Regions from separate parts of the Homo sapiens genome. Here regions 2, 3, 4 and 5 are each linked to region 1. The links come from fine-mapping of genetic effects on gene expression. A gene starts in region 1. Each other region holds a variant in brackets. All regions are shown on one strand. Distances are between the middles of the regions.

Region 1 (5,107 bases):
AGGAAATTCAACATCTCTAATATCAGAAAGGGCAGAGGATGGCTCCAAAAATAATTTACCAAGGTTTCTCTTCTCTGCAGTTCTCTGGACTCTCCTGACTCCAATGACTCCATTTTCAGTGTGCTAGATGGCTGAAATTCCAGCAATCATATCTAGATCCCGAAATAGTTAAAGACTGAAAGGGACCATCTTTTCCCATGTCTCTTGTTTTAAGAATAGAGAAATCTGTCATAGCAGAGGTTTCCTTACAACTCAGTGGCCGGAATCGGGTATCATACTCTGACAGAGATCTCTAATTGCTTCTGAATATCTACTTTCCCCACCTTCTTCAGTAATACCGTCCTGATTTTTATCTGGGCACAGCAATGGCCAGGTATATTTCCTTGCCTCCCTTGAAAGCTACATTTGGCCATGTGACTAAATTCTGGTGAGTGAAACATACGTAGAAATGTTGTGTAGAACTTCCGGGAAGTATCCTTAAAAGAGAGGTAGCATCCTCTTTTTATTCCTCTTCTTCCATTCTGATTTCTGGAATGCAGACGTGAAGGCTGAAGCTTCTGCAGCCCTCTTTGATCATGAGGACAAGGGTACACTCAGGATCAGGTGGAGCAAAGAACTGGAAGGAGCCTGGGTCCCTGATAAATTCAGGAACCTGCCCTAAGAGCTTTATTCTGCCTACGTCCAGCTAGGTGACAGAATAAAACTTGTGTGTTTAATTTACTGTTAATCTGAGTTCTTATTAACTTCTGGAGAATCTAATCCTAACTGATACACATGCCTTCATATAGCACCCTCATGATTTTGGCCACATCTTTCTATCATTATCTTATTGTTTCTCACCTTCTTTACATTGGCTTTTTCACTTAATTTGAAGAGAATTTTTTATATCATCACTGCTTGACTATAAAATCAGTCCTGCCTGGCAAAAATAGAAGTTAACTGCAAAAATAAAAACAATGGAAATGTACTGACTTTAAAAAATTGGCCAACAGTGTTTCTGTATGACAAAGGCAACAAGCTTATTTGATATGAAATAGTTGCATTAGCTCCTTGGGGGCTCCAGTGGCCTTCCTTTTATTCACTGATAATATTAGCAGCTTCATTAGGCATTTATCTTAAATTTGCATGCACTTCCCGGGTGGGAGGACTTTCCTCTGTATATGGTGGTGAGTAATGGAGTTCTACCTGAAATCATCCATTACCTCAGTTGGAGAAACATGTCTCTAGGAGGGAAAAAAATTCAAGACTTTCTTTTACATTTGGTTGGAGTAGTTTTCAAACTTAGTAAGCCTAAGAATCACCCGAGGCTCTGGGTAAAATGCACGTTTCTGGTCTTGTCCAGGTGTAGAGATCAGGAGTCTGCATTGTAAAATAGTGCCCCAGATGACGTCAATACAAGTAGTTTTCAGACCTTAATTTCGGAAGCATGTGAAAAAGCATTCTTTATTACTGTATTCACTCATTCTTCAGTAATTGTCGAGCACCTTCCAGAGTGCTCTGTTAGACCCTGGTGGGAGGCAGAGGGTTTGCGTGGAGACTTAAGATTCAGTTTTCATGTCTCAAGGCATCAAATGAGATGTACTAGAGTTAAAAGGCAAAAAGGACGCTGTTTGTATCAAGCGCATTAACCCCTTTTAGCGTTTCTCTTACAATGGGATCACCTTCGTCATACGCTCCCAGTTGCTACTCATTACCTTAATAACACTAATAAAGCACCACCACCTCGAAGCTGGGGCGAATAGGCCCAAGAGACGGCCTACTTCTGTGGTGACCCTGAACTGCTCCAGAGGACCCAGCTCTCTCAAGCCAAGTGGTTTCCACACTTTGCTGCACAGTGGAGGCACTTGTAGAATAAAGAAAATAGGCCGACCCTCCAGGTTTGGAAGCCACTGGGCTAGCGGCCTCGCCAAGGCCCTGAAGCGCCCACGTCTTTGCGCCCTCTATCCTCAGCCCCGAAGGTGCGCGCGGAGGCCTCCCGCCCCGGCGGGCCTGGTCCTGGCGCCTGGTCCACCCCGCCCCACCGCTACCCGCCGTGCCCGGCTCCGGCTCCGGCTCAGGTGCGGGCCGCCGGCCGGGAGGAGCTGGTGCCGGAGCTTCTCAGGCCAGGGCGCTGCAGAACCGAAAGCAGCAGGGGGCGGGGGAGAGGAAAGAGGGGGCGGGAGCGGGGACGCGAGGGCGAGGCGGCCACGCGGGGCCGGGAATGCCCGCGGTGCGGGGCCCCAGAGCCGCCCGGTGGTCGTGTCCGGGCGATGGCTCTTCGCCTGGTCGCCGACTTCGACCTCGGGAAGGACGTGCTCCCGTGGTTGCGGGCGCAGCGGGCAGTGTCGGAGGCCAGCGGGGCCGGAAGCGGCGGCGCAGGTGCGGGAGGCGCGCTGCGGAGAGGGGTGGGGGCGGGGAGTGGGAGTCCCTCATACCCCCCGGACTCCGACCCGGTGGGGAGCAACCCGGGGCGTCGCCGCCCTGAGAAGGCTGGTGCGAGGGCGTCGCTCCCCTCCTCAGAGGGCTGTTTTGGCTTTGCCACCCACACCCAGCCACGGCGGAAGGTCTGGGGGCAGAGCCCGGGCCAGGTCGCCGTGGGGCCTGAGGCGCCTGGCTCGCTGCCGGCCCGCGGAAATTCGCCCTTGGCAGAGGGGCCGGGCCGCTGGCGGTTCCCTCAGCATCACCTCACGGCGAGGGCAGAGGGTCGTGCTCAGCTCAGCGGCCGCATCCCACCTCCCGGGGGGTTCATCGGCAGCGCAGGGGCTTTGCCAAGACAGGAGTGCTCCTGGAAGCTTCACGTTTTGAGAAAGAATCCGTGACCACCAAGCAAACCACCCTATACCTAACGGTGGAACAGTTTGTCCCCACATTTGCGAGACGTGTTTATGTGTCTGTTGAACCGTGTCCGTGGCTCAGGGGACATGGGCCTCGGCGGTGAGGCGCAAGAGGGCAGGGGCCGCCTCCAGGCTGCGCGCGGCGGGGCGAGAGCCCCCAGCCGCCCCCGAGCTCCGCACCTGTGCAGGCTGGGGCTGCGCGCGAGATGCTCGGCTCCCGGCCCTGCCACTCCGGGCTTTTTGATGATTTGGTAAGGGAGTGAAAGTGACTTTTGAGCCTTCCCAGCACTGATCTGTTTTAAAGAAGGGGAACTTTGTGATTTCTTACAAAGTTTTAAAAGTCTTCTATAAATATTGGAGCTTCAGAGCTTAAATGCAGCTTCAAAGCAATGATGCCTGTAGGTCTCACCTTGTGTGTAGGGCGCTGTCCACTTCAGTGAATTTGGAAGTGGGTATTAAATGACCCACATCTACAACTCCTTTCCCTTAAACGCTGGTGAAAGTTTTCTTGATGTGAGTTATATATCAAGTTGCTATCTTGTATCTTCACACTCTCCTATGACTATAGCGAAATTATTTGTAGGTTTCCTTGGCTTGGAATATTATTAGCTCCAAATAAGGAGTTATATGTTTGTGTAGCGTATGCATTGAGTTTGCATTAGTGTCATGCTTAGTAAGGCTTTACTTTTTTTCGAGGTGGAGAGGGTGGTCAAGGAAGAATTTTATACAAAAATTAGCTGGGCGTGGTGACACGCTCCTGTAATCCCAGCTACTCGGGAGGCTGAGGCAGGAGAATCGCTTGAACCTGGGAGGCAGAGGTTGCAGTGAGCCGAGATCTCGCCACTGCACTCCAGCCTGGGCAACAGAGTAAGTCTCCGTCTCAAAAAAAAAAAAAAAAAAAAAAAAAAAAAAAGTCGCCCACATGTCTGAAAAGTTTTTGAAGGCTTAACTTTTTGAAATACAACAGGCAGCTCTGTCTTCTACTACCAAGTACTCCTTTTTCTGGACTCCCACTTTATTTTGCTAAATGGCAGGTGTCTGCAAATGAGAAGTTAGATGAGTGTGAAATGCCACAGTCTTATGTTTCCGTAATGTGTGTCGTGCTTGAAAAGCTGTGTGTGACCCACTGGGACCTGGCTTCCTTGTATCTTTCGCTCATCTCTGAAGAAATATAAACTTGTGTATTGACCTTCCACTAAACAACAGATAGCTCTAGGTCCTCAGAAGGTACTTTCTGGAAATACTAGCTTTTCTGATACTGGTAGTATTTTGCTCTTTCAGAGCAAATATCTTGGTAAGATATTAGCCCTGTTATACTAAGAGAATTATCACCTCTGATAATCACCAGTGGGTGGTAGCTCAAAAATACCCCCACACAAATTAATTCCTGTTCTGTAATTTATAGCAGTGGCAGGGAAATCTGGGATTCTGTCTCATTTCTAGCACAGCAGTTACAACACACATTTGTGGAAATCATTATCCTTTCAAAGTTCTGGCTTTTCAAATGTAAATTATGAATTACTATACCATTGTAATGCCTCCTCTATGCATACTTGCTTTCTGAATTTGAAGCCTTAATGTTTTTACATCAACAAATACAATTGAAGTTTTCTTAGAGGTGCTAAGTAATTCTCATGAGATATGTATGATATATTCCTGGCAAAACAGAGAGCTGGGCTGAGTCAGCCATGGAAATTCTGTGCCTGTAAGCATTTTGGTCAATAAGGGGTCAAGGAGGAAGGAGAACAGATTTGGTTACTGCATTTGCTCCTGGTTCTGGGTTGAACTTTTGAGAAAACAGTTTCTCCTGAAATAAAAGAAGATATTTGTTAAAAATCAAAACAACTACATAAAAGAATATTTTAACAGGTAGCTGTAAATGATAAAAGAAAGAAAAAAACCACCGAAGTAAAACCGTGTATCCACTACCCAGCTTAAAAACAGAGCAATGTCAAGACTCTTGAAGTCTCTTATGTGCTCCTTTCTGATTCTATTTCTTTCTCTCATCCTCACCTCCTAGGTTGGCAACCATTTACATTTTTATATTTTAACATTACTTTGACTTTATTTGTAGTTTTAGCCTATATGTATGGGCAAAATATTTCATTTTGCTTGCCTGTGAACTTTAAACATACTGTATGCATTCCTTTTGCTTATTTTCCTTCTCAATATTGTGAGATTTACCCATATTGACTGGCTAGCTGCAGGTTATTAATTTGTATTAATTAATGCTATATAGTGTTCCATAGTGTGAATTCAACACGATGGTGGACATGGAGATGCACCCCTTAGAT
Region 2 (5,107 bases), 51 kb after region 1:
TCTGAATAAACTAGGTATTGAAGGAAAACCTCAAAATAATAGCCATCTATGACAAACCCATAGCCAACATCATACTGAATGGGCAAAAGCTGGTAGCATTTCCCTTGAAAACTGGCACAGGACAAGGATGTCCTCTCTCACCACTCCTATCCAACATGGTATTGGAAGTCATAGCTAGAGCAATCAGGCAAGAGAGCATCCCAAATAGGAAGAGAGGAAGTCAGGCTATCCCTGTTTGCATACGGCATGATTCTGTAGAAAACCCCATAGTCTCAGCCCAAAAGCTCCTTCAACTGATAAACAACTTCAGCAAACTTTCAGGATACAAAATCAATGTACAGAAATCTCTAGCATTTCTTTACACCAACAAGAGCAAAGTCAAGAGCCAAATCAGAAAGGCAATCCCATTCACAATTGCCACAGAAAGAATAAAATACCTAGGAATACAGCTAACCAGGGAGGGGAAGTTAAAGATGTCTACAATGAGAATTACAAAACACTGCTCAAAGAAATCAGAAGTTACAAAGAAATGGAAAAACATGCTCATGGATAGGAAGAATCAATATCATTAAAATGACCATACTGCCCAAAGCAGTGTACAGATTCAATGCTATTCCTATCAAACTATCAATATTCTTCACAGAACTAGAAAAAACTGTCTTAAAATTCATATGGAACCAAAAAAGCCTGAGTAGCCAAGGTACACCTAAGCAAAAAGAACAAAGCTGGAGATATCATGTTACCCAACTTCAAACTATACTACAGGGCTACAGTAACCAAAACAGTATGGTACTGTTACCAAAACAGGCACATAGACCAATAGAATGGAATAGCGAACCCAGAAATAAGGCTGCACACCTATGACTACCTGATCTTCAGCAAAGCTGACAAAAGCAATGGGGAAAAGACTCCCTACTCAATAAATGGTGTTGGGATAACTGGCTAGCCATATATAGAAATTGAAACTGGAACCCTTCCTTACAACATAGACAAAAATCAACTCAAGATGCATTAAAGACTTAAATGTAAAACCCAAAATTTATAAAAATTCTGAAAGAAAACGTAGGCAATACCATCCTAGTCATAGGAATGGGCAAATATTTCATAACAAAGACATCAAAAGTAATCACAAAAGAAGCAAAAATTGACAAATGGGATCGAATTAAACTTAAGAGCTTCTGCACAGCAAAAGAAACTAACAGAGTAAACCAAACGACCTACAGAATTGGGAGAAAATATTTGCAAACTATGCATCTGACAAAGGCCTAGTATCCAGCATCTACAAGGTACTTAAATTTATAAGACAAAAACAACTCCATTAAAAAGTGGGCAAAGGACATGAACAGATACTTTACAAAAGAAGACATGTGGCCAGCAAGCATGTGAAAAACTCAGTATCACTGAGGATTAGAGAAATGCAGATAGAGGTTACAATGAGATACCATCTCATACCAGTCAGAATGGCTATTATTAAAAGTAAAAAAAAAAAAAAAAAAAAAAAACCCACAGTTGCTGGCAAGGTTGCAGAGAAAAGGGAAGACTTATACACTGTTGATGAGAGTGTAAGTTAGTTCTACCATTGTGGAAAGCAGTATGGTGATTACTCAAAGGCTAACAGCAGAACTACTATTGGACCCAGCAATCTGATTACTGGGTATATACTTAGAGGAATAAAAATCATTCTACCATAAAGATATACGTATGCAAATGTCAATTGCAGCGTGATTCATGTTAGCAAAGACATGGAATCAACCTAAATGCCCATCAGTGACAGATTGGATAAAGAAAATGTGGTACATACATACCGTGGAATACTGTGCAGCTATAAAAAAGAATGAGATCATGTCTTTTGTGGGAACATGGATGGAGATAGAGGCTATTATCCTTAGCAAACTAACGCAGGAACAGTAAAACGAAATACCTAGTGTTCTCACTTACAGGTAGGAGCTAAATGATGAGAACTCCTGAACACAAGGGAACAACAGACACTGGGGTCTTCTTGAGAGTGGAGGGTGGGAGGAGGGAGCGGAGCAGAAAAAGTAACTATTGAGTACCAGGCTTAATAGCTGGGTGATGAAATTATCTGTAAAAATAAACCCCTGTGATATGAGTTTACCTATATAACAAACCTTCACATGTACCCCTGAACTGAAAATAGAAGTTAAAAAAAATTCCTGTAGTCCCAGCTCTTTGGGAGGCCAAAGTAGGAAGATCACATGAGCCCAGGGAGTTCAAGACCACCCTGGGTAACATAGACTCCATCTCTTAAAAAAAATAAAATAATTAGCCAGGCACACATGTAGTCCTAGCTATTTGGAAGGCTGAAGTGGGAGGATTGTTTGAGCCTGGGAGGTTAAGGCTACAGTGAGCCATGTTTGCACCACTGCACTCCAGCCTGGGCAACAGAGTGAGACTTTGTCTCAGATAAATAGTGCTTCAGTCATATTATCCACATTTTGAGTGTTCAGTGACTACATGTGGCTAGTTGCCACCATATTGGACTATACAGGTATATAACATTTCCATTGTCAAAGACAGTTCTGTTGGATAGCTTCACAGAGCCTGTGTACATACCATTTCAACTTGCTGTGTCTTTTTTTCCCTTTGGGATTGGGTGGGGCAACTAAGCATGACCTAACAATTTGGAAATATTTGCTTATAAGTTCTGGATATGGTTCTTAGAATATGTAATTAGGTACATTTATTCTACATCTCATTTTATTTTATTATTACACTTTAAGTTTTAGGGTACATGTGCACAATGTGCAGGTTAGTTACATGTGTATAAATGTGCCATGCTGGTGTGCTGCACCCATTAACTTGTCATTTAGCATTAGGTATATCTCCTAATGCTATCCCTCCCCCCTCCCCCCACCCCACTACAGTCCCCAGAGTGTGATGTTCCCCTTCCTGTGTCCATGTGTTCTCATTGTTCAGTTTCCACCTATGAGTGAGAATATGCGGTGTTTGGTTTTTTGTTCTTGTGATAGTTTACTGAGAATGTACATCTTACTTTTTTTCAAAATGAGAAAAACTTTCATTCTCTAAAGGATGGAGTGCAGATAGTTTGCTAGAATGGAGGTTATGATCTATGTTGCCATCATGTTCATTTCCCAGGATAGAATCCTAAAAGAATTACT[G/A]GGTGAACAGGTATGAATATATTTAACCCTCTGTGAAAGAATTTTTCTGAGATATTGTGTTAGTTGACTCATTCACTACTATTTGAGAATTGTGTAAGAAGCACATGCTCCCTTGACAGTATTTCATTATCATTTAAAAAACTACTTCTAAAGGAAAATTATGGTACCTTGTTTTAATTTTTATTTATTACTAGAGAATCTAAAGTCTTTTTTTTAAGCAATTTCATGTTCCTTGTGATTATAGTATATAAAAGAATGGATAAACAAGTAGTTTTTTGCTGATAATGTTTACTGTATGAAAGCAGTCCAAGTGGTATATGAGACTTTTGTAACTCTTATAATTATTATTTTGTTTATACTTTAGTGATAGATTACTTTTATTCTCAGTGAGTCATGAGTCAGCTGTAATTGTAAAGAAAAGTTGTTATTGTGTGCTCAGTAACCGTAACAGTCATTTTACATCTAATAGAATTGTTACCATGTTATCTGATGAAGTTATTCTTTTTTGCTATTTTGTGTTTAAGATAATTGCAATAAAATGTACTGCTGACAATACTTTGCAGTGTTAAATGTCATTAAAAAGTCATAATTGATAAATATTATAACAGAATACTTATAAATGTCCTTGAATAGCCCTCTTAGGGGAAACTGACTTTTTTTCTACCACGATTCTTTGATAAAGAAACTAATGAAGGAAAGTAGAGGAAACATTGAAATCCACTGAAGTAGAGTAGCGATTGAATTCACACAGCTAGTTAACGTTAGCTCTGGGGCTAGAACTCAGGTTTCCTGACTCCTTGTCAAGTTACTTTCTACCTGTCAATCTCCTATTTCAGTTAATCACATAAATGATAGACATACCTGTTTAAGCATACTGTCCTCAATTGTATGTAGGTCACTGATGGACATTAGTCCATACAGCAGCAGCTGCTAGAGATAATGTACAGTTTCATGCGTTGAGAGAGGTGGGGAAAGTTGAGGGTGTTCTGGAGTGATGGGGTAAGTGAAGGGGGTCAAGACTCACCTGGAAAGGCCACTCTATGCCAAGAGCTCTCCTTTGGCCTTGGGCCAATGCCTTCAGTGACTCAGTTACGGATGGATATGGACTCACATGCCACATTTGTTTTCACTGACCCATAAGATAGATCACACTTTGCCTTTCAATCAAGATAAACTAGAGACTGGTAACTTTCTGTGAAATGAACACATTTTTGATAAACTGGTGTTCACAGCTGTTAGTAATAATTGCAAGGTGACAAGCTAGATAAGGGAGGACAATGCATGCTTACTAGGAGAATCTCATGAAGCTTTGGAAACTGTCTAGAACCCCATTATTTCATATGCAGGAGTATATCTGTGTTCATTTTCCTATCCTTCAATAGCCTGCCACAATATGTTGCTATATAGTGTGCACTAAAAAATTACTGCTTTGAAATTTCTTAGCAACTTGTTAATAGACCACTTCTAGGACTTGGGAATAATCTATGAGGTAAGATGAGACAGGACATCTAAAGGAATAGAAGTAAGTTTAAGTGGTTTAGGAAACTTTATTTATGACATAGATTCTGTTAAACTCTACTAAATATCCTTTTTCTTCTAGGAAGTTTGTGTGTATGTTACAGCCCGAAGTGTGCCTCTTGGGGACAAATCACATATTCAGTGTTTTACATTCATAAAGGTACTTTTCATGTCTTCTTTGTTACTTTTACATAATAACTTTTTCCAAATAGTAGCAAATTAGATAGCTCTTAACAGTGTTATTAGTAATTTTTTGGAGACAGGGTCTCCCTTTGTCACCCAGGCTGGAATGCGGTGGCATGAATACTGCTCACTGAAGCCTCAACCTTATGGTCTCAAGTGATCCTCCCTCCTCAGCCCACCAAGTAGCTGGGACTACAGGCGTGTGCCATCATGCCTAGCTAATTTTTGTATTTTTTGTGGAGATGGGGTTTCACCATGTTGCCCAG
Region 3 (5,107 bases), 30 kb after region 1:
TTATAGATAGATCCAGACCTTCCAGTTGTTAGGACATAGCTCAGAAATTGTTTTACGTTCTTTGCTTTTTTCAAAAAATAAAGCAGTGCTCTCAGGTTGCTTTCTTAAATATTGAAAACTAACACTGATTAAATTCCACGCTTCTGTGCCATCCCCAAATTTTGTATATTATTTTTCACAGTGAAGTCACTGAGAGACACTGGATCATATTAGAGTCTCAATAAAAGCTCAAATATAAGGCCAGTCCTTCTTTTCTACGGTGTAATCTTGGGGGAAGGGGAACCTTGACCTAAATTTAGATATCTTTGGTAACTCCATGCGGGGAAGCCTGTGTCCATGGACTTCCTCCTGATTGCTGTATTTTATGGCATTTGCTCAGATGTGACACTGAAGAAGTAAGTGGGTCATTATCAGTGCTATACCACTGTCCCTGAGGGAAACCCAGCCTGTGTCCTAATGATAGATACTGTCAGCCTTAACATGTTCATGTATCAGAAATCTTTTTATTTTCCTACACAAACAATATTTGCCATTGTGCTGCCGAATTGGAGTGACAGAGAATCGCACTGTGTTTGTTTAGACTTAAAAGCCTAGAGGGCTTGTGGAGCTATGCTAAAAATGGCATGGAGTGAGTACAAACAACTTCTTCACTCCGTGCACATTGATTTCTCCCTTGAGATCTTTTCTGTGTCTCTGTTGAATTTGTAGAAATGTCAAAGTCAAACTTTAAAGTCAAACTTTAAGAAAATCACCTTTTTTTCCCCCTGGTAGAATAGCTAATACAATAGTTAGCATATTTATATTTTCAGAAAGTTCAGACATGTCTGCTTTTGCAAATCATAGAATTGTGATAATTGGGAAAAATGATATCCATTAGAAACCCGTTAGGCCCTCTTATATGTTGCTGGTGAGAGTGCAAAGTAATATACAGTGATCTTTGAATTCAGAAGCCACTTGTGTTTTAAATGTGATGCTTTTCTGTAAATGCAGAATTCTTATAATCTGAAATTTGTCTCCCTTGTATCTACTGTTGTTTCCAGGGCTGTTCAAAGACTTCCCTTTTCACATTTGCATTTCTTGAGTATCCTGTGGTTTTCATAATAAAATGCAGCTTCTTCAGGGCTCCTGAGGGTGTGGAAGGCAGGTCCTTTGCTGGGCTGATTGCTCTTTTGGGGTCCTGGAGCCGCTACACATCCTAGAGAGTAGAACTGGGAACAGATTTACAGTTTCAGTCTCCTCACAGGACTCTAGGATGGTGGTAGAATTGTTTTATTAGTTTATAGTCACTGTAGTAGGATTTACCGGAAATTGTTCTTACTCCTTGCTTTGGAAAAAATAATGTGTGATATTACAATCTTCGTTACTAAAAGCCTTCTTTTCTCTGTAGGATCAAAGTGCTTGACTTTGTTGGTTGAAATCCACCCTGTTAACAATGTGAAGGTTCTAAAGGCTGTGGATAGCTATATTTGGGTTCAGGTAAGTAAGCATGCCATTTATCACTTATCTCATTAATCAAAAGGCATGCAGCCTAGAAGAATTGGGGTTTACAAAGTACTTTCACTCTATCATATTTAATCCTCAGAACAGTCTTGTAGACTACTATGGCTGGAAGTATCCGCTCTTTGTTTGCAAGCATGGAAATTAAGAACTCGAAGCTAGCTCCACCAACTCTGTTTGTTTCTTAGTAATGTAATATTTTCTCATGATAAAATATCAAATATTAAAACACATTTAAGGTAAGCTTTAAAATGGTCAATATAATGTATTTGCATGGTTGACAGATTAAGTATCTATGGTTAAATGGCTTAATCCCTGAATTTATCAACTTCATGAGTTGATGCAGAAACTGCATGTATAATGTAGGTGGCATAGATACAGTCATTCCTCATTATTTGCAGATTCCATATTTGCATATTCTGCTGCTCCTAAAATTTATTTGTAACCCCTAAATTAAACACTTATAGTACTTCGTCAGTTATTTGCAGATACATGCTGAGTGGTGAAAGAATTTGTCACCCAACATGCACATTCGCAATTGAGGTTGAACACGGTGATGCCCTGCCTTTTTTGCTTTAGCTCTCATACTAAAATGACAGTTGTTTTCATGGCCTAGTTCCATCTTTCAATTTTTGTGCTTTTTCCTGGCGATTTCACAGTTTAAACGGCTTCCAGGAATAGCGCTGAGGCACCGTCTAGTGTTCCTAAGTGCAAGAAGGCTGTCAGATGCCTTAGGGAGAAAACATGTGTTTCAGATAAGCTTCATTCAGGCATGAGTTACTATGCTGTTGGCCATGAGGTTAAGGAGTGTCTTTAAATAGAAACACACAAAACAAAATTATATACTGATCTGTTGACAAACATGCTGTGACTAGAGGCTTCCAAGAATTTATCCTTGTTTGGGTTTGGATCATAATCCCAAAAGACAATCCTGAACACCATAATCCTGAATGTTGA[A/G]ATCCTGAAAGGTCAAAAGTCTACAGTCCCAAAAGCCATGATCACAGGATAGTTAGTATACACGAGTGTCTATACTTTCAAAACTGTGTATGTTATTATTGCCTATTTTATTGTATAAAGTGGACTATGAAGTGTTCTTTTGTGTTTTGCTTCTCAGATAAGTCTTCTTTTAAAAATGTCAATACATCTTTTAAATAATTTTTAAAATTATTTTCTTCCAGAATTATATTTTTGGGATTTTGATCTTTTGGGATTTCAATATTTAGGATTATGGCATTTGGGATTGTGTCTTTCAGGATTATGATCAACTCCCTTTGTATTTCCCTAGAAACAATGGTTCAGTATTCAGTATACGACATTTGTGGTGACTTTACAGAACATAACTACTGCAAATAATTTGAATGAACTGTGTGTGTTCACACAGTGCTACAGCATAATTTCCTTTCGCCTAATTTCACATTTTGTTACAGGGTCAAAATATCATTTCTTTTGGTCTAGCCAGAGTCAATTTGCACCACTCAAAGTATCTGCCTTTTTGTCCCCCAAGCTATTACCAGCCTCCACCCTATGGGCCTCCCTATTCCAGTGGGTTAGGGGAGAGGGTTGTCTCTCTCTTCCCAGGGTCCTCCCCTGTCAGCCAGTCCTTTCAGCTGCGCATTTCCCCGCCACTCCTGACAGCACTGTGGTCGCTCCTCAATTCCAGATATGGCCTGGCCTGAAGCTCCCAAGCTGCATTCTCCTACCCTCAGGAAGCTACTCCGTCTACACTGTCATCAATGTGGGGAGGCTGGGGACAGAGCACACTTCTCTTTTCTGGTCTGTTCTTTGGCTTCCTTAGCATCTTGTTAGGGCCATATAGATGGTAGAGACATGACTGAAGGATTGGGGTAACTAAAGGGAATTGGAGCATAGAAAGGGGAAAAGTTTTTAAAAGCAAGTGGTTGTATACATTGCGAATATATTAAAATCTACCAAAAATTGTATATATTAAAGTGGTTAAAATGGTAAATTTTATGTTATGTGAACTCAGTTTTAAAAAGTTAAAAGTGGCTGGGCGCAGTGGCTCATGCCTATAATCCTAGCACTTTAGGAGGCCAAGGAGGGCAGATTGCCTGAGCTCAGGAGTTTGAGACCAGCCTGGCCAACGTGGCAAAACCCCATCTCTACTAAAAATATAAAAATTAGCTGGGCGTGGTGGTATGCTACTGTAATCCCATCTACTCGGGTGGCTGAGGTGGGAGAATTGCTTGAACCTGGGAGGCAGAGGTTGCAGTGAGCCAAGATCGTGCCATTGCACTCCAGCCTGGGCAACAGAGCGAAACTCCATCTCAAAAAAAAAAAAAAAAAGTTAGAAGTACATGGAACAGGACAGCATCTATAGGCCAAAGGAAAAGTCCCAACCCAAATAAAGTAAAACTTGTACTAATTCTGTGGACCCATCTTAGTCCCTAGCCCTGCCTTCTGCCCCCATGTCTCTGCCTCTGGAGAGAGAAACTCCTCTAAACCCCAGTGGCAAATCCCCGCCTTCTCCCTCCTGCCTCTAGAGAAATGACATCTACTGTCCATTGAGTTGGTCTTGCCCTGGGATCAATTTCCTTTTTCTTACAAAAACATCCATGGTGATCTCCAGCAGCACATTTCCCTAACTCTGCATGTGTAGTCTTGACAACCTACACAGAGGAGCTTCAGCAGGAGTGGCAGGTGGGGCTTGGATCCCAATCCGGGACCCTTTGAGTGTTTCCTTCCAGCACAAGGTGTGTCTTCAAGATAGTTCCAGTGGGTAATTACACACCCTCTACACACCGAGACTACAGACCTCCAAAGACCAATATTCATTCTAAGTCTAGCTCCATATTTGTGAAGATAAATTTTTCAAAGTAAATATAATCTGCATAGAATCCTACTTACAATACAAAAAAAATAACCTTGAGTGCTTTTGCAGAGCTGTGTCTGAATCCTGTCTACTTTTGGCTTCCAGGCCTTACTCTAGGACCACCTTATAATAGAAAGAAAAACAACACCTACCTGAACGGGACTTTTAAAATAACATTCTCCCTGATTGTCACAGGAAGACCAGGCAGAGGTTTAGAGGTTGGCAGTTACACCTCTTCAGCACCTCAGTCCATGTCACATTCCTAAGCAGGCATGCCCTGGCCACCTCTGTAGACCGGGAGGCCATACCATCTTCCATAGCAGCAGATATCTCCATATTTTGAGGCACTGAACATTTGTTCTCCCATCCTATATGTGGTGTCATTCATCTCTGCTTTTCCTCAACTCTGGTATACAAAGTATCTTGTTTGATGTGTGACATTTTACAAATTATGAGACAATTAGTTCTGTATTATTTTTGTAGCTGAATTCTGCATTGCTATTTTATAATTTTGACTTTATTGCTGTGAAGCATATGTTTTGCTTTTCATTTCTAAAAGGGAACTCAACTATAAATGTTCCAAAATTTGACTAGTACTATTTTTAATCTGATATTATGCAAAGGTAGGACACTAGGAAATAATAAAAAATTGTCCTAAGTTTAGTGAGACTAATGACTCGGAGATTGGGACATAAAAGTTGTGCCCTTTTATATTACTTTCAAGTTTTGGGTGAGGAAAAGAACAAAATTCACGGGTCTTTCATGCTGCAAAATGAAATG
Region 4 (5,107 bases), 120 kb after region 1:
ACTTATATGAGACAAGACAAACTTCAAGTCAAAAGCTGTAAAAAGAGACAGAGAAGACCATTATATACTAATAAAGGGATCAATTCAGCAATAGAACAATTATAAATATATATGCACCCACCACCAGAGCACTCAGATATATAAAGAAAATATTAAGAGCTAAAAGGAGTGATAGACCCCAATACAATAATAGTTGGAGATTTCAACACCTCATTCTCAGTGCTGAACAGATAATCTATATAGAAAATCAACAAAGAAAAACTGGATTTAAACCATATCATGGACCAAATGGACCTAACAGACATTTACAGAACATTTCACCCAACAGGTGAAATACAGGATACACATTCTTTTCATCAGCACATGAAACATTCTTCAGGACTGACCATAGGTTAGAAATAAAACAAGTCTCAAAAAGAGACTTTTTTTGAGATGAAGACACTTTTTTGAGATGGAGTCTCACTCTGTTGCCCAGGCTGAAGTGCAACGGTGCGATCTTGGCTCACTGCAACCTCTGTCACCTGGGTTCAAGCCATTCTCCTGCCTCAACCTCCCAAGTAGCTGAAACTACAGGCATGCGCCACCATGGCCAGCTAATTTTCATATTTTTAGTAGAGACCGGGTTTCACCATGTTGGCCAGGCTTGTCTCAAACTCCTGACCTCAAGTGATCCGCCTGCCTCGGCCTCCCAAAGTGCTGGGATTATAGGTGTGAGCCACCTTGCCTGGCATCCAAATTTATTTTTTAAATCAAAATCATATCAAATATCTGACCATAATGGAATAAAACTAGACATAAATAATGAGAACATTTGAAACTATACAAATACATGGAAATTAAACAACATGCTCCTGAATGACCAAAATGAAGAAGAAAGAAATTAAGGAAGAAATTTAAAAATTCTTTGGAACAAACGAAAATGGAAACACAACATGCCAAAACGTATGGGACACAGCAAAAGCAGTAGTGAGAAGCAAGTTTATAGCAACAAATACTTAACATGAAAAAACTAGAAAGATTTCAAATAACCTAATGATATACCTCAAGCAACTAGAAAATCAAGAACAAATCAAAGTCAAAATTGTAGGAAGAGAGAAATAATAAAGATTAGAGCAGAAATAAATGAAATTGAGAGTAAAAAAATACAAAAGATCAACAAAACAAAAAGTTGGTTTTCTGAAAGAATAAACACATTCAACAAACCATTAGCTAGACTAAGGAAAAAAGAGAGAAGACCCAAATAAATGAAATCAGAAGCAAAAAAGGGTATGTCACAACAGATACAAAAAATAATTCCAGGGTGCTTTGTACTATATGTCAAGTTAGAAAACCTAGAGGAAGTGAATAAACTCCTTGACATATACAATCTACCAAGGTTGAATTGGGAAGAAATAGAAAACCTGAACAGATCAATACCAAGCAATTAGATTAAATGAGTAATAAAACGTCTTCCACACCTGTAATCCCAGCACCTTGGGAGGCCAAGGCAGGTGGATCACTCAGGGCCAGGAGTTTGAGACCAGCCTGGCAAAACCCCATCTCTACTAAAAATTCCAAAAATTAGCCAGGCATGGTAGTGCATGCTTATAATCCCAGCTACTTGGGAGGCTGAGGCAGGAGAATCACTTGAACCTGGGAGGCAGAGGTTACAGTAAGCCAAGATTTGGCCACTGCACTACAGTCTGGGTGACAGAGCGAGACTCTGTCTCAAAACAATAAATTAATAAAATAAAATATATAAAATAAAATAGTCTTCCAACAAAGAAAAATCCAGATGGCATCATTGCTGAATTCTACTGAACCTTTAAAGAAGATTTTTTCTTACATGGGTAAATCATGTAATGCTGAAGTTTGAGGTACAAATGATCCCATCATCCAGGTAGTGGGCATAGTACCCAACAGATAGTTTTTCAACTCTCCCCCCACCTTCTCCCCAATAGTCTGTCGTTTCCATCTTTATATCCATGTGTACTCATTGTTTAGCTCCCCCATTTAAGTGAGAACATGTAGTATTTGGTTTTCTGCTTCAGACTTGCTTAGGTCAGTGGCCTCCAACTGCATCCATGTTGCTGCAAAGAATGTGATTTTGTTCCTTTTTATGGCTGTATTCCATGGTGTATATGTATCACATTTTCTTTATCCAGTCCAGTGTTAATGGGCATCTAGGTTGATTCCATGTCTTTGCTATTGTGAATAGTGCTTTGATGAATGTACAAGTGCACATGTCCTTTTGGTAGAACAATTTATTTTCCTTGGGTATATACCCAGTAATGGGATTGCTGGGTTAAATGGTAGTTCTGTTTTTAGTTCTTTCCAAAGTGGTTGAACTAATTTTACATTCCCACCAGCAGTGTTAAGCATTCCCTTTTTCCTGCAACCTTACCAACATCTTTATTGTGTGTGTGACTTTTTAATAATAGCCATTCTGGCTGGATGTGGTGGCTCATACTTATAATCCTAGCACTTTTTGGAGGCTGAGGCAGGAGGATTGCGTGAGGCCAGGAGTTTGAGAGCAGCCTAGGTCACCTAGTGAGACTCCATCTCTACAAAAAATAAAAATATTAGCTGGGTGTGGTGGTGTGTACCTGTAGTCCCAGCTACTCAGGAGGCTGAGGTGGGAGGATCACTTGAGCCCTGGAGGTGGAGGCTGCAGTGAGCTGAGATCATGTCACTGCACTCCAGCCTGGGTGATAGAGTGAGACTCTGTCTCCCAAAATAAATAAAATAAAATAAAATAAAATAGATAAAACAAAACAAAATGACAATACTACCCAAAGCAATCAACAGATTGATTGTAGTCACTATCAAAATACTAATGGCATTCTTCAGAAAAATAGGAAAAAACAATCTTAAAATTTGTATGTAACCACAAAAGACCCCAAATAGCCAAAGCAATCCTGAAC[A/G]AAATGAACAAAGCTGGAGGTATCACACTACCACATCTTAAATATACTACAAAGCTCTAGTAACCAAAACAGCATGACACTGGGATAAAAACAGATACATAGACCAATGGAACAAAATAGAGAATCAAGAAATTCATCCATATATCTATAGACAACTGATTTTTGACAAAGGTTCCAAGAATACTTATTGGGAAAAGGACAGTCTCTACAATAAATGGTGTTGGGGAAACTGGAGGTCCATATGCAGAAGAATGAAACTAGTTCCCTACTACTCACCCTATTTAAAAATCAACTCAAAATGATCAAAGACCTAAATATAGCACCCCAAACCATAAAACTACTGGAAGAAAACATAGGAGAAATGCTTCAGGACATTGGCCTGAGAAAATATTTTATGAATAAGACCTCAAAACACAGGCAACAAAAGCAAAAATAAACAAATGAGATTACATCAAACTAAAAACCTTCTGCACAGCAAAGGAAACAACAGAGTGAAGACAACCTACAGAATCAAAGAAAATAGTTGCACACTACTCATCCAATAGGGGATTCATATTCAGAATAAATAAGGGACTCAAATATCTTAACATCAAAAAACACTACAAAAACAACAATCTGACTTAAAAATGGGCAAATGATCTGAACAGACATTTCTCAAAAGACATACAAATGGCCAACAGGTATATGAAGAAATGCTCAACATCACTAATCATCAGGGAAATAGCAATTAAAAAAACATGATGAGGTATCATCCCACCCCAATTACAATAGCTATTACCAAAAAGTTAAAAAATAACAAATGCTGGTAAGGATGCAGAGAAAAGGGAGCTCTTATATACACTGTTGGTGAGAATGTAAACTAGTGCAGTCACTATGAAGAATGATATGGAAGTTCCTCAGAAAACTACAAATAGAACGAACATATGATCCAACAATCTCCCTACTGGAAATTTATCCAGAGGAAAGGAAATCAGAATATTGAAGAGACATCTGCACCCCCATGTTTACTGCAGTGCTATTCACAATAGGCAAGACATGAAATCAGCCTAGGTGTCTGTCCAACAACAGATAAGTGGATAAAGAAAATGGGAGCTACACACACACACACACATATGCACATACATATGCACATACACAACGGAATATTATTTAGCCACAAAAAAGAACAAAATCCTGTCATTTGTGGCAACATGAAAGGAACTGGAGGATGTTATGTTCATTGAAATAAGCCAGGTACAGAAAGTTAAACACCACATGTTCTCACTCATGTGTGGAAGCTAAAAATTGTTCTCACTCATGTGGAAGCTAAAAGTAGAACAGCGGATATAAGAGGCTGGGAAGGTTAAGGGAAAGGATGAGGAAAGGAAGGAATGGGGTAGATTTGTTAATAGACACAAAATTACAGTGAAATAGGTGGAATAAGTCCTATGTCCTATACCACTGTAGGATGACTATAGGTAACAATATACAGTTTCAAATAGCTAGGAGGATATTGAATATTCCCAACACAATGAAATGATAAAGTTTGAATGTATATGCTAATTACCCTGATCTGATCACTATACATTATATGTATTGAAACTTCAGTATGTACCCCATGAGTAGGTACAATTATTATTTGTCAAAAAAATAAAATGAAAAAAATGCAAAAAGCCATGACAAGCTTCACTACTTTATGTAATTTAGATTTACCAAGATTAAGTGCTACTTCTTATTCAACAAAGTGAGTTATGCCTTTGCAATACTTGAGGTATTTTCCTTTTCAAATAGCCATTCTTTCTTTTTAAAGTGTGTATATTGAACAGTATTTGTTTTTTCTTTAATAAACAAAGACCACTGTGTCCATTTCCGTACTTCATTGAGAACAGATTTATTTTTAGTGCATTTTTATAGCACCTTGCCTACTACAAATTTCTGGAATGTACTCAATATAAAGAGTGAAAAAGAAAATATAAGCGATTCAAATATATACTTTGACATAAATGTAGGACAGTTCTATGTCCCATTCAACGTCATGAAAGGTATAGTAGTTGGTGGGTAAATAGAAACCCTGTTGTACTCTGTTGCTGACTAATTGTGGTTACCTTACTTATCAATAATATTAGAAGTATTATGCTCACATTTTTCACCTGTGGGTACAAGGAAGCCTGGTTGAAGTCTTTTCCTTGAGAGGCCTGGATTTGTTCACATATTCAGATTTCAAC
Region 5 (5,107 bases), 100 kb after region 1:
CCCTAGAAAGATTGAAGGATTACAGGAAAACTACCTTTGTGGCTTAAATTCTTAATTGTTTGTTGTTAACACAAAAAATTTGGTAGGGAAATGGATTGACAGTTTTAGATTTGTTCATTACAGATATTCAAGCTTCTTTTGAAAATAAATGAAACTGACTTACTGGGGACATTGTTACGCCTGGAGATCATAAAAATCCACTTTCTACCCAACTCACATTCCTTCACAGTGATAAGGAGGGAAAACAAAGATGTTATCCATAGTGATCGAGAATTATTATAAGTAGACTTATGGCTTGTGTCTGTGGGTCAGGTAAGGAAAAGGTGTTTCTCATTTTTTTAATTATACTTTAAGTTCTAGGGTACATGTGCACAACGTGCAGGTTTGTAACATAGGTATACATGTGCCATGTTGGTTTGCTGCACCTATTAACTCGTCATTTACATTAGGTATTTCTCCTAATGCTATCCCTCCCCCAGCCCCCAACCCCACGACAGGCCCCAGTGTGTGATGTTCCCCCCCAACCCTTGTCCAAGTGTTCTCATTGTTCAATTCCCACCTATGAGTGAGAATGTGTGGTGTTTGGTTTTCTGTCCTTGGGATAGTTTGCTGAGAATGATGGTTTCAAGCTTCATCCATGTCCCTGCAAAGGACATGAACTCATCCTCTTTTATGGCTGCATAGTATTCCATGCTCTCTCCTTTTCTCTTGAATGTTTATTTCCATCATGTGACATGGAAATAGAGGGGGGAGGTGACACTGGATCATGTGTGTGTGTGCATGTGCATGCTTGTATGAATTCAGGGTGTTTCTATATGCACATGCGTAAGTGTGCTTGCTTTCCAGGCCTATTGGACTAATGATGACTGTTTGAGTTACGATTGTCAGAGACTTGTAACATGAATTGGTTAAAGTTAAGAAGAGAATGGGGAACACAAAAAGGAAGTCAGGGTTTAGAGCTAGGGCATTTGCTTTTAAAAAAAGGAACTGTATTGCACTTGCTGGCTAGAGGAGGCCAGGAGCCCTGGAAGATGAGGATTAAAGTTGGGTGGAGCTGATGACTAATTATAGCCAATTTGCTCTGTTGCTCAGAGCTGATGTATAGAGGCCAAGAACAGGTCCCTGAACTTGGGACTGTGCCCTGGGGATAGAGGATGAAGGGTCATCAGGGACCTTTAGCATATGAACACAGGGCTGGAGAGGGAAATTTGAATCCAGAAAATCAATATCATCAATAATCTAGTGTAAACTTTTCTTCAGAAATAATTTTGTAACTTTTTACTAATAGTTTTGTGAAGAATTTCCAAATCCATTTGAAAAACGTTGTTGTTAATTAACTAGTAAAATAGTGGAGTTTTTTTGGACTCAGGGAAGCTAGTGGACTCATCCTGTTAGCCCATTAACACATGCTTGTGGGCAGAGCCTGTACTTCATCTGACCCTTGATGTTACAAGGACTTAGGACTGTGCCCCATGGCTTGTGATTCATGTGTTTAGAGAGAGAAAATCCCATGATTTCTCTGAATCCAAGCCCTGCTCGTTGGGCATCATCCTTTTGTCAGGTACCTTCCCAAGAGTAGGCTATGATTCTTCTGTCAGTCATTCCCACATTCAATGAGTTGCAAAGCCTGTACATGTTACCATGCCTCTCTGATTCAGTGCCTCCATTACCTCTTATCCACGTTCAGGCAATAGCTTCTCTACAGGTCTTCATACCTTCTGTAGCAAATTATTACTCCAACTCATTCTTTGCCTGTTGCCATATTAATATCCCAATGGTAAATCTTCTGTTCTGCTTAAAAACTTTCATTACCTCCTCAAAGTCTCTCAAATTAATAAATCTCTATCATTCAGCATTCAACCTCTGTCACCTGCACTCATAAGCACAGAACTGGTCACATTTTTAAAAATGTCTATTTTTTGTAATTGATTGTCTGCCTCCCCCAGCAGACTGCAAGGTGTATGGGAGCAGCAGTTGTGCCTGTTTTGCTCATTTTTATACTCTTAGCCCCTTGCCAGGTGTGTGGAAGGGATGTGCTGAATAAATTAGCTTTTCCAACCTTACCTCTTAATCTTTCTCTCCTCTAATATGATTCCAACCCAGCTGGATCATTTACTATTTTCTGAATATGCCCTGTGCTTTCTCATCTTCGGACCTCTGTTCATGTTCTATTAACACAGCTGCCAGTTATTAACAGTGACATTATGGTTGAAAGCCTACCCTACAATCACACAGTTGATGCAAATTTCAACTTACACATTATTATTTCTGTGATCCTGGGCAAGTTGCCTAGCTCCTGTGAATCTTGGCTTTTGGTTTTTCCATTTATGAAATGGGAATCTAGTAATTCCCACCCCATACTTTTGTATGAGGATCAGATGAGCCAGGACACAGGTTGAAAGCCTTGGTACATGTCCAGTATGGGTCGCTATTGTTATATTGCATGCTAGGCTCTTCACAGACCTGGCTCTAGTTCTCAAAGCAGCCCTGTGGGAAAGGTACTGGTGGTTCCAATTTAGAGATGAAGAAATGGAGGCTCAGAAAGGCTTAGTTGCCTGCAGCTGGTGAGTAATACAGCTGGATTCTGGCCTAGGGCTGCTCATGCCAAACCTGGCTTTTTCTACTGTCCGCACTCATTTCCACTGATAGGAATTGCATCTGTCCTTTGAAGCTCCCCGCAAATGCCATCACTTCCAAGAGAGCTGTTTTGATTCTCTCCTGGTCTGATACCTTCTCCCATGCATGATGTTTTTATCTGTTGTCAGTAGTAGTATACTTAGAGATCTGGGTTTCTGTGGGTAGCTCTACCCGTGAGACAGGCTTGAGAATGCCTGCCTCTCAATTGAATTCCTATAAATTTACTATCTGGCCATATTGTCTTAATTCTTTCTTTTCTATACTTTAGTCCAAGTAGACTCTAAAAGCCTTTCTCTAGGGCATACCCAGAGATAAGCCATATAAACTATTGCCTTCTGGTCCAAATTTGTTTCCCTTCAGCAAAATGGTCCTCATCCCAACAACCTTTTAGTCTGGACATACGAAATCTGAAATGCTTCT[G/C]TACTCTTTTGCTATCTTACTGTAGAATCACAAACATATCAAACCGTAAAACCATTGAGCAGGCCCTTGCTCTGTTTCTGTGCAGGAAGAGACCCAAGGAGCAAGGAATGTATACTTACCGGAAACTTACTATAGACCCAGCGTGATATTTAGTTACGAATAATACAGAGAAGGAAACTTGGACCTTGTTTTCAAGAAATTCAGTTGGTTCCAGGCACCAAGCACTGAACTAAGTGCTTTATTAACATGATCTAATCCATTCCCCGGGGGCTGCTGGAGATGTTGGCTGACTGTGTTTACCCTCCAGATCTCTCATCCTAGGTTTTCATACTCTGCACACCATCCTCGGGGTCCAGTGTCTCCCTTTGCATAACCTGCTGCATTGCATTGACAGTGGAGTGTTGCTTCTCACTGAAACAGCTGTCATAAGGCTCATGAAAGGTAAGAAGCCCTGAGTTTGCCAGAGTGCTAGTTCCAGCCTGAGCACCACCAAGGCTAGCTTCTTGGGTGTGCAACCTGTGCAGTCACCAAGAGCCTGGCTGCACTCAGAAGAGTGCCCTGCTCAGTTTAATGCTGCATTACATCTTGAAATTCTTAGTAGTATTTGAACGAGGGCTTGCTCGTGTTCATTTTGTGCTGAGCCCCACAAATTATACAGCTGGTCCTGTGAGCACAATCCATTCCCTGTAATCATCTTTTGGGCCAATTTAAGGTTTCTGAGCCCTTCACGAGGTCCTAAGGGACTTTTCAATCCACATACAACTATTAGATTCCTTTTCTGTGCAAGAGGGCACTTGAGGCTAGGAACCTCTGCAGGCTTGTTTCTCAAGAAAATGTCACGAAATGGCTTATTTTCAGCTGATTAACTCTGTCATCTCAAAGTTAGACTAGAAATGCAAGGAAAATTATTGAGAGGGGCAATTAAATGAATTTGAACTTTAAATTCTGTAGTATAATCACTCAAATTATTCAATTGTATTTTAAGATGATTTTTGTTTATATGAAAGCATTTGTCATTCCTCAAGGTACCTTCTGTTTTAAGTTAGTCAATAAAATTGCTTTGTACCTGGCAGCCTGTTATAGAAAAATCCCTTTTTATTCAGAGAGTCAGAGTAAAATTTCCAAAATGCTGTTAGATTAGCTTGAGAATACACAGTTGGGATATGTCCTATCAAGATGAACCACTCAAGTATTAATATTAACTTGCTAAAGTATCAAAATGGGTATTTGTTTCATTTGCTAATCTCTAACTTTCTTGTAGATCTGGATAATACAGAGAAAAATGAAAAACTGAAATTCAGTATCATTGTGCGGCTTCCTCCGGTAATACTGAGTTACATTTTATTTTCTCCCTAAGCTTTGGCATTACCCTCCTTCAATTTCTTCTTGCAAAAAGAGCATTTACTTGCTTTGGGTTAAAGTCAATTGAATTGTTTCACTTTTCAACACTTCCAAGAAATCCCACCCGTCCCCAGCCCTCTGTTAGCTGTTTCCCACTTGGCCTACAAAGCACTTGCTCTCTGGCTCTGCACTGCCTTGGCACAGTCCAGTGAGAACATTAAGCCATTTTTGCCTCTTAGGAAACCACACTAATATTTACATCTGAGTCTGAGAGGGAGGGAGAAGGGGAAACGTGCTTTTGGCATTTAAACAGATTTAACTTGGATACATTGGAATACAGGTGAGGACAGAAGGTTCTAGACCTGTATTTCCCCTTACTGCATTTCTACCATGGTAGGAAGACATTCCTAGGTCAAAGGAAGAATGAGAAACATGAGGGAATATCAACACTTAGAGTGAGAGATACTATGAAAATATGACATGGTAGGAAGACATTCCTAGGTCAAAAGAAGAATGAGAAACACAAGGGAATATCAACACTTAGAGTCAGAGATACTATGAAAATATGAAATTCCACAGCAAGGTCTTCCGAGCCTCTAACTCTGCAAACTTCCTGACCTGGAGAGCCTTAGCCAGCTCCATCTGCTGTGTACATGCCTTGCACACTTGCACCTCTGGCACTGTCCTCTCACGAACGGCTGTCTGTTAC

Which allele goes with the higher level. Positions count from the first base shown, and alleles are read on the strand shown. Sizes are in standard deviations (SD) of each study's normalised expression. Not every link is listed here.
For the expression in whole blood of the gene that starts at base 2,222 in region 1, allele G in region 2 goes with a higher level than allele A (small effect, 0.33 SD a copy in GTEx).

Evidence for each region.
Region 2: its variant is fine-mapped to the expression of GSAP in whole blood (GTEx, PIP 0.96).
Region 3: its variant is fine-mapped to the expression of GSAP in subcutaneous fat (GTEx, PIP above 0.99).
Region 4: its variant is fine-mapped to the expression of GSAP in whole blood (INTERVAL, PIP 0.91).
Region 5: its variant is fine-mapped to the expression of GSAP in whole blood (INTERVAL, PIP above 0.99).

Annotation. Positions count from the first base shown.
Region 1 is chr7:77,413,464-77,418,570 of GRCh38, reverse strand. GSAP (gamma-secretase activating protein) reads left to right here and starts at 2,222. Exons shown (of 31, transcript NM_017439.4): 1 at 2,222-2,358. The coding sequence starts at 2,250. LOC101927243 (a long non-coding RNA gene) reads right to left here and starts at 3,373. Exons shown (of 5, transcript NR_110073.1): 1 at 3,223-3,373. RefSeq lists silencers at 1,927-2,276, 2,497-2,706, 2,767-3,056.
Region 2 is chr7:77,362,294-77,367,400 of GRCh38, reverse strand. GSAP (gamma-secretase activating protein) reads left to right here. Exons shown (of 31, transcript NM_017439.4): 13 at 4,741-4,818. Among named protein-coding and RNA genes, the nearest start is that of GSAP, 52 kb to the left of the region's middle. The variant G/A (reference allele first, on the strand shown) is at 3,141.
Region 3 is chr7:77,383,729-77,388,835 of GRCh38, reverse strand. It overlaps GSAP (gamma-secretase activating protein), which reads left to right. Exons shown (of 31, transcript NM_017439.4): 6 at 1,388-1,476. Among named protein-coding and RNA genes, the nearest start is that of GSAP, 30 kb to the left of the region's middle. The variant A/G (reference allele first, on the strand shown) is at 2,455.
Region 4 is chr7:77,294,855-77,299,961 of GRCh38, reverse strand. It overlaps CCDC146 (coiled-coil domain containing 146), which reads right to left. Exons shown (of 19, transcript NM_020879.3): 19 at 4,758-5,107. The coding sequence ends at 5,096. Among named protein-coding and RNA genes, the nearest start is that of CCDC146-AS1, 49 kb to the right of the region's middle. The variant A/G (reference allele first, on the strand shown) is at 2,904.
Region 5 is chr7:77,312,761-77,317,867 of GRCh38, reverse strand. It overlaps GSAP (gamma-secretase activating protein), which reads left to right. Exons shown (of 31, transcript NM_017439.4): 27 at 3,379-3,498; 28 at 4,319-4,380. Among named protein-coding and RNA genes, the nearest start is that of CCDC146-AS1, 67 kb to the right of the region's middle. RefSeq lists an enhancer at 1,275-1,776. The variant G/C (reference allele first, on the strand shown) is at 3,058.